Linked DNA regions of Homo sapiens. The protein of the gene in region 2 purifies or fractionates together with the protein of the main gene of each other region. This does not show direct contact. Each region holds a gene or a part of one and is shown on either strand. Other genes may lie near its edges.

Region 1 (3,853 bases), on a different chromosome or scaffold from region 2:
ACTGTGCTTTAGAGCAGCAAATGGCACACAGCAGAGGAGGAGCGGCTATTGTTATAACTGAACCACGATCCAGAAGAAGGCCTTCGTGTCATGTTATATTTGTTGCTGAAGATCAAACAGGTATTTCCTAAGCAGTATTTCACTTTCACGTTTCCTGCCAGACCTAAATATAAGTGGTACGTTTACTCATCAAAAATAATAATAATAATCTACTCAAGAAAAATAAAAACAAAACCTCAACTAAAAGTCTTTTATTCATTCTACACAGTACCCAAGAAATCACAGGTTTGAGTTCTAATTTTACTTTTTTTCTAAATCACTTTAAAATAAAATGTTACTCTGTATTTACACCACATTGGGAATTACTGTAATATTGAAAGATTCCAACGAAAGTTCTCTATGTGGGTTCAGATTCTTAGTCACCTCTTTTTAAACAGGAGGTGCTATGAATTTGGATGTGTTCACCACAGTTCATGTGTTGGAAACTTAATCCCCAATGTGATAGTGTTGGAAGGCGGGACCTAATGGGAGGTGCTTAGGTCTTAAAGGCTCTACCCTTATATAAATGGGTTGATATTATCATTGGAGTAGATTTGTTACAAAAGCAAGTTCAACCCATTCTTGCCCTTCCACCATGGGCTGACACAGTTAAAAGGCTCTTGTGAGATGTGGGCACCATGCTTTTGGACTTTCCAGTCTCCAGAACCACAAGCTAATAAATAAATATATGTTCTTTGTAAATTACCCAGTCTCAGGTACTCTATTATAGCAGCACAAATGGACTAATCATGATTAACCCATTTATGCTGGAGGTTGCAAATGTATTTTTGTGAAAAATCAGACCTTGGTGATGACCTTGAACAGTAGGATATAAATAACTTGCCCAAGCTTAGCATTCTAATAATGGAACACTAGGCATAAATGGGTTAAAGTCATTTTATGTTTAAAGAAAGACTTTTCTTGACATTACATGTCAATGATAAAGCCTACACAAGCCAACAAATTAAAGTCTCGTGGTGCAAGAACAAGTAATGGAACACAACCTGAAAGGCTCTTATATAACAACTTCACTGACCTGCAAATAGCGAGGATGGGCAAGGACAGTTCCACATCCTTCCATCTCACAACGGACATACTGGATTGGAGGCTTTTTTCTATTATCAAAATGCAGAAGAAAAGTTAGCAAAAAAAAAAAAGTGGTACTCTGCACAGTGGCCTCTGACTTAAACTGTGCTATTGGGAATAGCTATTTTATAGTAGGAAGAATTAAAATCTCTTTACTACTATACAGATTACACAGAATTTGTATTAGAAGTAACCAAGAATTAGCAAATATTTGACAGAATTAAAAAGTAACACAAATAAACTAATGACCCCCCAAAGGTAAAGTATTAAGATTGTTAGAAATTTCAAGCTCTTACAATGAAAATAAGATCATAACACCTGTGCATCTAGGACATTAGTGAAGTTGCTTTTGTGAAATTTTTAAATAGCCATTCCTGCAGGATTATCATGAAGTCTAAATTTGTGAGTAAAGTGCCTGGTACTGGAATAAGGTGTAAAACAGTAGGGGTAAAAATTCCTCACCTCCTTTTGGGTAAACGTGGACTTTTGTCATCTTTTCGTCTTCTTCCTCTCCTGTAATTGAAGACAGGGTAACAGTAGACATATTCTGAATCAAAACTACACAGTGAAGGCTGGCTGAAGACACACACACACACACACGGCCAAAGAACAAGTGGCAAAGGATAACCAAGAATACATAAAGTCAAAGATATATCTGGCAAATCAAGCAAGTAATTTTACCCTGAAGTAATTTCACTTTCAAATCAGTCTGTAAGACAGATTAAATATATACCTTCCATAAACTATGCAATACTATGAAAGACTTAGAAGAATCTCAATGTATTACTTTTAGAGTTGCTACCATGTATCATCTAAAAACACTAAGATTAAAAAATACCTTCTCCTTGCAATAGAACTGAAAAACCTAAACATTTTTTTACTAAGAGTCTCTCCAGTGAAATTGTCAGCTGCTTGAGGCCAAATTTTTTTAAGTTAAAAAATACATATTTTGAAGCATGTATACGTCAACATCCTTCCTCACACTCCCACTCTTTTTTCCACTAGTCGTTCAAAATCTGTTAGATTTTCATTTTTAATAATTGCCTACTCACTTCCTTGGAGGTTCCTCATCCTCTCTAATTTCATTCTCCTCTTCTTTCACCTCCACCTCTACTTCCACTTTAATTTCCTTCTTCTCCTTCTCTTCTTTTACCTTCCCTGATTTTCTCCGTGGCTTTGGGGTTTCCCTGAAAACACAAATGCATTTCAATACTAGACAAAAGATCTTTTCAAGGAAGACTATGACAACAAATTAAAGCTTAGAGTTATCACTGATTTGTTATAAAACTACCTTCCTCAGTTCATGAAATGTGATTTCCTACCAATCATCCTCACATGCATAGTAATGATCCAAATATATGTATATGTTGCTCATGGAATGAACCCTCCCCAGACTAAAGATGCCTGTAAATCAAATTTCACTATAATTGTAAAGAGAAACGAGACAATTAGTTAAAAAATTCTAAGTATTCAGGCAATTCATGATACCTTGTTGAAATAAAACATGCAGACTCATAAAAACTTGTATATAATCAAAATAAAGTTCTACAAATGGGAAAGAGGATTATTATCAGGGTATATTAAGGTGTTAGACTTACAAAAGAAGTGCATAATTAATTACTCATTTAAAATTAATTCTATACCCATTAGCTTGGCAACAGATAAAATAAAAGCATGCAACAGTGCTTTCCTACTTATATTTCATTAACATGTCTGCAGTAAAATCTGAGACATGCCTTTCTAAGTGGGGTTTGTAGGTCTCATCTCTTGGATCATCTTTGAATGGTATCTCCTCTTCACTGATTAACATCTCTTCTTCCTCCTCCTCTTCCTCTTCACTACTAAAAATAAGTAAATAGAAATGAGACATTCTGGTTGTAGCGAACATGTCTGAGGGGATTTTATTTGGTAATTTTTTAAGAGGTAGCCAAACACTGATAAAGTCATCTAGCATTTTCATCCTAATGACCTAATTGGACTGAAATCTAGCTGTTTTATCACAAAGAATAATAATTGAAACTAAAAAGACATAAATCCTAGATAAAGACAGGGTGATGACAACTCAATGGCATTAAAAGTTAAGAAACAACTGACTTTGTAATACTGTCTGGTGATCTGCTATATTAAAAGACCTACTAACAGATAAATCACAACACAAAAGATTCCAATAAAATCTCAAAACCTTGGCCAAAACACCCATATTTCACATTAGTGCCTACCATGGAATAAGTCCAAACACAGAAGATACTCAAGACATGATTTCTAAGCTATGTAAGTAGATTACATGGTTTAAGTTCTAATCAAGCTCAACATGGAATCTAAATGCAGTATCAAAACTGAAGTTAATTTCTCTTACAGCTCAAAATAATTTCAAATGGAAGCAACTTCTGAATCATTTACTGTGACTATGCTATGTCCCCAAAGGTTTAAAAATGAAATATTAATGTTTTTTTTACCTAATGCCACCTGGAGACTGATGCTCTTCTCCAACATCTAGAAAAACAAAGCCAAAAACAAAATTTTATTAGTGTAGATATAAGATATTTTCTCTCTGCAGTCAAGAAATGCAAATCAAATTACTGCATGGGGTAATTATACAAAAGCAGAATATCTGCAAACTGTTCAAAGAAATACCACCTACACCATCAAACCTGCCCCTGACAGTTAAGCTGTTAACACAAATGTTCAACATTACATTTAAAATGTAACAGCAACTAGTTAGTAAACA
Region 2 (3,500 bases):
AGTGTGAGACCAGCCTGGCCAATATGGTGAAACTCTGTCTCTACTAAAAATAGAAAAATTAGCCGGCCTGGTGGCGGGCCCCTGTAGTCCCAGCTATTTGGGAGGCTGAGGCATGAGAATCACTTGAACCCAGGAGGTGGAGGTTGCAGTAAGCTGAGATTGCGCCACCGTACTCCAGCCTGGGTGACAGAGGGAGACCCTGTCTCAAAAAAAAAAAAAAAAACCACAGAAGTCAGAAGAAGAATCCATAAAGGAAAAGGTTTATAATTTTGACTCCATGAAAGTTAAACCAATGGTATGTTTAAAAAAAGAATTAGGGCCGGGCGTGGTGGCTTACGCCTGTAATCCCAGCATTTTGGGAGGCTGAGGCAGGCGGATAATGAGGTCAGGAGATCGAGACCATCCTGGCTAACACGGTGAAACTCCATTTTTACTAAAAATACAAAAAATTAGCCGGTCATGGTGGCGGGCGCCTGTAGTTCCAGCTACTCGGGAGGCTGAGGCAGGAGAATGGCGTGAATCCGGGAGGTGAAGCTTGCAGTGAGCCAAGATCGCGCCACTGCACTCCAGCTTGGGTGACAGAGCGAGACTCTGTCTCAAAAAAAAATAAAAGAAAAAAAAGGCTGGGTGCGGTGGCTCACGCCTGTATTCTGAACACTTTGGGAGGCTGAGGCGGGCAGATCACGAGGTCAGGAGATCGAGACCATCCTGGCCAACATGGCGATACCTCGTCTCTATTAAAAATACAAAAACTAGCTGGGTGTGGTGACCCGCACCTGTAATCCCAGCTACTTAGGAGGCTAAGGCAGGAGAATTGCTTGAACCCGGGAGGCGGAGGTTGCAGTGAGCCAAGATCGTGCCACTGCACTCCAGTCTGGAGACAGAGTGAGACAACATCTCAAAAAAAAAAAAAAGAAAAAAGAACTAAAGGTAATATTTACCGTATTTATGACAGGCAACTAGGTAACATGTCATCTTTCTATTTAATAGATGCATATATATGTGTATGTAGGAAAGACTAGGTGACTAAGTGAATAGTAGTATCTGCAGAATGTAATGCAGTGGTTAAAAACAATCAGTGATAAAAACCAAATTATACAATGATGTATACAAAAATTACACTATTTTAAAAAATAAATAGTGCTAAATGGATTCCTTAGGCATTTATGTAAATATACAAACACAGGTTGAAAGAATAAACATCAGATAATGATTACTTCTGGGAAGGGGCATGCTGGATGGTAAAAAGAAGCTTTGTGGGCCGGGCGTGGTAGCTCATGCCTGTAATCCCAGCACTCTGGGAGGCCGAGGCGGGTGAATCACGAGGTCAGGAGTTCGAGACCAGCCTGGCCAACATAATGAAACCCTTTCTCTACTAAAAATACAAAAATTGGCTGGGCATAGTTGCGCACGCCTGTAGTCCCAACTACTCGGCAGGCTGAGGCAGGAGAATTGCTTGAACCCAGGAGGTGATAGTTGCGGTGAGCTGAGATTGCGCCACTGCACTCCAGCCTGGACAACAGATTGAGACTCTGTCTCAAAAAAAAAAAAAAAAGAATAAGAAAAAAGAAGCTTTTTTATTTTGTAATGGTTGAAAGTTTTGCAGTAAGAATGTAAAATGTATAGTAAAAAACAGTTGATAAGAACATTTTCAAACATATAAAATTGAATAGTAAATTGAATAGAAAGATTGAATAGTATAAAGAACATGATATACCCATTACCTATTACCAGTCTTTAACAATGATCTTTTCTTCACCCCTGCATTTGAAACAATCCCAGTCATCATTTTATCTTCAAGTAATTGTATGTATTTCCAAAATGATAACTAAGGGCTCTTTAAAACCACAGTCATTATCAGTAGAAGAAAAACAGTAATTTTTTTTGAGATGGAATTTCACTCTTGTTGCCTAGTCTGCAGTGCAATGGTGTGATCTCAGCACGCTGCAACCTCCACCTCCCTGGTTCAAGTGATTCCTCCTGCCTCAGCCTCCTGAGTAGCTGGGATTACAGGCGCCCACCACCACACCTGGCTAATTTTTTGTATTTTTAGTAGAGACTGGGTTTTGCCATGTTGGCCAGGCTGGTTTCGAAATCATGACCTCAAGTGATCCGCCTGCCTTGGTCTCTCGAAGTGCTGGGGTTACAGGCGTGAGCCACTGCGCCTGGCATAGTAATTCTTTAATATCATTAAATACCTAGTGTGCACATTGCCCTTGCTGTCTTTTTTAAATAGTTTGTTTGAATCTGGATCCAAATACAATTCTTGACGTTGCTACTGATTGATATGCGTCTTAAACATTTTATAATCTATAGTTCCTTTTTTTTTCTTTGCAATTTTCTGTTGAAAAAACTCATTTGTTGGCCAGGCGCAGTGGCTCACACCTATAATCCCAGCACTTTGGGAGGACGAGGATGGTAGATCACCTGAGGTCAGGAGTTCGAGACCAGCCTGACCAACATAGTGAAACCCTGTCTCTACTAAAAATACAAAAATTAGCAAGGCATGGTGGCACGTGCCTGTAGTCCCAGCTACTTGGGAGGCTGAGAAAGAAGAATCGCTTGAACCAGGAGGCGGAGGTTGCAGTGAGCTGAGATCGTGCCACTGAACTCTAGCCTGGGCAACAGTGTGAGACTCCGTCTCAAAAAACAACAAAAAAACTCATTTGCCTTATGAGTTTCCCACAGTCTGTTTTGCTGATTTGCATCCCTGTGGTTTTTATTTTTCCTTATTTTTTTACTGTTAACACCACTCAAAGATGTGGTGGGTTTTCTTGTTTGTTCGTGTTGTGTTTTTGTTTTTGTTTTGAGAGTCTTGCTCTGTCGCCCCGGCTGCAGTGCAGTGTGGCATGATCTCAGCTCATTGCAGCCTCCACCTTCCAGGTTCAAGAGATTCTCCTGTCTTAGCCACCTGAGTGGCTGGGACTACAGGCATGCGCCACCATGTCCGGCTAATTTTTGTGTTTTTAGTAGAGATGTAGTTTTGCCATGTTGGCCAGGCTAGTCTGGAAGTCCTCACCTCACGTGATCCACCTGCCTCCGGCTCCCAAAGTGCTGGGATTACAGGTGTGAGCCACTGTACCTGGCCTCCCCGTAAGTATTTTAACATACATATCTTTTTTTTTTTGAGATGGAATTTCACTCTTGTCGCCCAGGCTGGAGTGCAGTGGCGCAGTCTCAGCTCACTGCAACCTCTGCCTCCGGGGTTCAAGCGATTCTCCTGCCTCAGCCTCCTGAGTAGCTGGGATTACAGGCGTCTGCCACCATGCCCAGCTAATTTTTGTATTTTTAGTAGAGATGGCGTTTCACCACGTTGGCCAGGCTGGTTCAAACTCCTGACCTCAGGTGATCCACCCGTCTCGGCCTCCCAAAGTGGTGGGATTACAGGCATGAGCCACTGCGCCCTGCCTATATATATCTTTAACTAGAGTGCCATATTTACAGTTTTTTAAATTGAGGTAAAATTCACATAACTAAAACTAACCATTTTAAAGTATACA
Region 3 (3,500 bases), on a different chromosome or scaffold from region 2:
ATGTAGGTAGCTTCAATAGTTTAGAAAATTCATTTGCATTATTCAATCAAGAAGGACAAATAAAATGACATACTTTTATTTTTATCTTTTTAAATGGCAAACACACAGAACTGGCAGTCAACCGAGGGCAGAAGATAAGGGTAACTCCACTAAAAGACACCATAAACCAGGAAAGTGGAAAGAGTCAGTGTGAGTGACACAGGTCAGACCTACCAGGTGCTACCTGATATTTATTTAAATGTCAAAAGAATCAGAAGAGGAGATTGAATGCTCCTCACTACCAGTGTGCAACTGAGGGGCGGGGCTGACTGCGCTGTGAATACCAATTCTGTATTTCCCGACCAGGAAGCCGAGCACCTGCACATGCGTTAGGCATGTAGTTTCCTTGTTTCAGTAGCATATAAAATAGCCCAAACTCTCAAAAGGATTAAGAAGTCTGCAAGATTCCCAGGATAAAGCTGCACAATTACAGTTTATGCAACTTTCATCCAACAACTGCATAACTGAGGGGAGGAAGCACTGCTCTCCTGCTCTCCTGCCAACGTCTCACCATCCAGTCAGAAAACCTCAGAAATGGCTTTGTATCGATTGACATTTTCCCCTCTGCAGATATAGCCTCTATCTGCAGAGACCTTTTGCATTAAAAAAAAATACAAAAAACTACAAACCAAGCTGGAGTTGAGCCTTTAAATAAGTATGATAAAACTGACATTTAAAATTATACAATAAATTAGCTCAAGTTAGAATTATAAACTCAGGACCAGGGAAAGGAATAATTATATATCAGAACTAAAACGATATAACCAACCAGGTGCAGTGGCTCACACCTGTAGTCCCAGCACGCTGGGAGGCTAAGGCAGGACGATCACTTGAGCCCAGAAGGTCAAGTCTGCAGTGAGCTGAGACTGTTCCTCTGTGCTCCAGCCTGGGCAACAGAGTGAGATCCTGTCTCAAAATAAAAATAAAAATAATGATACAGCTGATATTTAGGCAGTAGCAAATTTTACAACACTATTTGCTACTGTAATCTTAGTAGAGTAAAATTTTAATCTTCACTCTTCCCAAGCTATGTACAATTGCATCTTCCTGTTTGATTTCCTGGACGATACATGAGTTGCAATATGAATCATCCTCATCAACTAAGTGAATGAGTTACAGTCGTTATCAGCATACCCACTGGCGAAAATCTTTATTATCTACAATGCTGAAAAAGCAAAAGTTCCATGAAATGGGTCATTTCTAATAAATCATAAAACAGAACCTACCTTAGAACTTAATAGTCACTTACAAATGTATCCACATTTTACAAAAGAGGAAACTGAGTCTGAAGGGAAATGGGTAGGTGACTTGTCTGAGCGAGTAATGGCCAGAGTGAGATTTTCTGTGATCTAAGATAGTCCACCCTAGAGGAAACTTTAAAATAAGTGTGCACCGTGATTGGAAAGCTAGCTGATAAACCATTCTTTTCCTCACTCCCTGGACTTTTGCTTCCTTCTCCCTTTCCTACGTAGGCCCAGTCTGCATGTCCTTCCCGTCTCCACTCCAGCTCTTCTCTGCAATCTGACAATAGATCCGAGAATCCTTCTGTTCTGCATACTGACTCCCTCTTCTCCCCAGGCAAGGCTAATAGATACAGAACCCTCGCTGGAAGACAGAAAACGAAGGCACGAGGCACTCAGCGGTCTCACAGGGTCACCCAGCAAAGGAGTGGCTTAACTAGAAATAGAAAGCAGATGCTCCCGGCATCCATTAGATTAAAGCAGATTACAGAGGCTTATCCCAGCCTCAGCAAATGCTTCAGATGAAATCATGCATGCAGTCTGGCATCAAAGGAAAATTAGAAGATTCTACCTGTAAAAGTGAAAGCGTAAAAGGCTGCCACATCATCCGAAAGTTACAGGTCACTGAGTTTTATTAATTTGCTCTGCAACAGCACCTTCTGTGATCTCTAGTTTTTCTCTACAGTCTAATGAAAGAAGAAATGCTATTTCAGGGACTGGGTATGAAGTGAGCATGTACCCTCTCTTCAAAAGGACTGAGGGCCAAGGAAGCCTGTATTCTGTTCCATAGCACGCTGGGGTGGAGAAGAACCCCAGTCAGAAGGGATACGGGCGACAGCCAAGAAAGTTCCATGTGAGAGAAAGAACGGAGGAAGCGGAAGAGCCACGGCTGCTGGAGAGGGAAGGGAGGCCCAGCCTCTCCCTGCACACAATCCCCAATCCACTCAGCTCTGCCACGGCCTCTCACCTCAACCAAACCCAGCCCTCACTTTTGGGCTCCTGGCCCTAAATGAAAAGCATCATCAATACTTCAGAGTAGTGGGGATTCCAGCTCCCACTGCTATCCAGGCTGGCTGTACAAGTTAAGAGCTTCCCAGCAATGCCCTGATACGCATGACATTCCTAGAAGACCAAAGCAGAGATGTGCTGTTCCTGGCATATCAAGGTAGAAACACATCCAACCTCCCAGGAAAGAACCATCAACAGAGACTAGATATTACAGCATCAGCAGCATCATCACGCTTCTTATGTAAACTATGTAATAAGTAGGTTTCTAATTCATGATACTGTTCTACAGACAAACTGGGGAGTTGGTTCTATTAGGTTAAATTGCTTCTTTCCAATGCAAGATCGCCACCTAGTGGCTGAAGACAACAACCGCATGCACAAATGATTTCACATACTGGGAAGGGGCTAGGGAGGTGGTGATGAAGGAATAGGAATTCTCACCCAGGTCTCAAACGGCTTTTTACCCGACTTGGCAATGACTATGGAATGCCTACGCTGTGAAATGGAGAAATTACGTGGAATAAAGGGTCAACCAGGGAGTGTGCTTTATCACACTGGAGGTATCAATATAGAGCATAATTCTCTAACCTGGCGTATTAAAAGCTATTTAACACCAACTTTCAGCTGTGAAAAAACACCATGCAGCTAAAAATGTTGGGCAAGAAATTAAAATTATTTTCTGACCTAGCTACATAAAGTCCCGTTTTCCTCTAAATATAAGCTGATTCCATTTTTTAGCTCAGCCACAGGACTTGTTTACAGTCTAAAACCTAATCTGGGTCCCATCTCAGATCTCCTAGATCTGAATTCTAACAAGATCCTCAGGCACACCACAGTCAATGCGAAGACTCCAGCGCTGTTTCACAGCAATGCAGTCGGAGCTGTCCATAAAGCATGAAGTCGCTATTGGCCCAGAGCTAAAATGCTTCAAGCAACTCAGGACAAACACGTAGATTTCAATAACAAGTAAAGAAATGCTTAATCTTACCTTTTGTGAATTTCATATAGTGAACACGGTTTTTGGAGATTTTGGACTTTTCCTCAAGGCTAAAAGATTTCTTTTCCTTCTTGTCCGAGGAATCTTTAAAAAAGATGAAAAAAATACATTAAAGTCTTTCTAATCCAATCTCATTTATTCTCCTAACAGTGGATAGTCTTGAAAGAAAATTTTAGGAGCCCTATCATTAATGATTGAACTCTTTCATTCATTTG

Evidence for each region.
Region 1: the proteins of DDX50 (region 2) and ZFP91 purify together in Homo sapiens (affinity purification with mass spectrometry; one large-scale study listed by BioGRID and IntAct). This does not show direct contact.
Region 3: the proteins of DDX50 (region 2) and PINX1 purify together in Homo sapiens (co-immunoprecipitation; one large-scale study listed by IntAct). This does not show direct contact.

The regions. Positions count from the first base shown.
Region 1 is NC_000011.10:58,610,063-58,613,915, reverse strand, and holds part of ZFP91 (E3 ubiquitin-protein ligase ZFP91), read right to left. Parts: intron 3,619-3,853; coding exon 3,582-3,618; intron 2,967-3,581; coding exon 2,862-2,966; intron 2,313-2,861; coding exon 2,178-2,312; intron 1,639-2,177; coding exon 1,588-1,638; intron 1,155-1,587; coding exon 1,076-1,154; intron 1-1,075. UniProt on the Homo sapiens protein: Atypical E3 ubiquitin-protein ligase that mediates 'Lys-63'-linked ubiquitination of MAP3K14/NIK, leading to stabilize and activate MAP3K14/NIK. It thereby acts as an activator of the non-canonical NF-kappa-B2/NFKB2 pathway.
Region 2 is NC_000010.11:68,914,815-68,918,314, forward strand, and holds part of DDX50 (ATP-dependent RNA helicase DDX50), read left to right. Parts: intron 1-3,500. UniProt on the Homo sapiens protein: ATP-dependent RNA helicase that may play a role in various aspects of RNA metabolism including pre-mRNA splicing or ribosomal RNA production.
Region 3 is NC_000008.11:10,822,876-10,826,375, forward strand, and holds part of PINX1 (PIN2/TERF1-interacting telomerase inhibitor 1), read right to left. Parts: intron 3,370-3,500; coding exon 3,277-3,369; intron 2,569-3,276; exon of another isoform or gene 2,498-2,568; intron 1-2,497. UniProt on the Homo sapiens protein: Microtubule-binding protein essential for faithful chromosome segregation. Mediates TRF1 and TERT accumulation in nucleolus and enhances TRF1 binding to telomeres. Inhibits telomerase activity. May inhibit cell proliferation and act as tumor suppressor.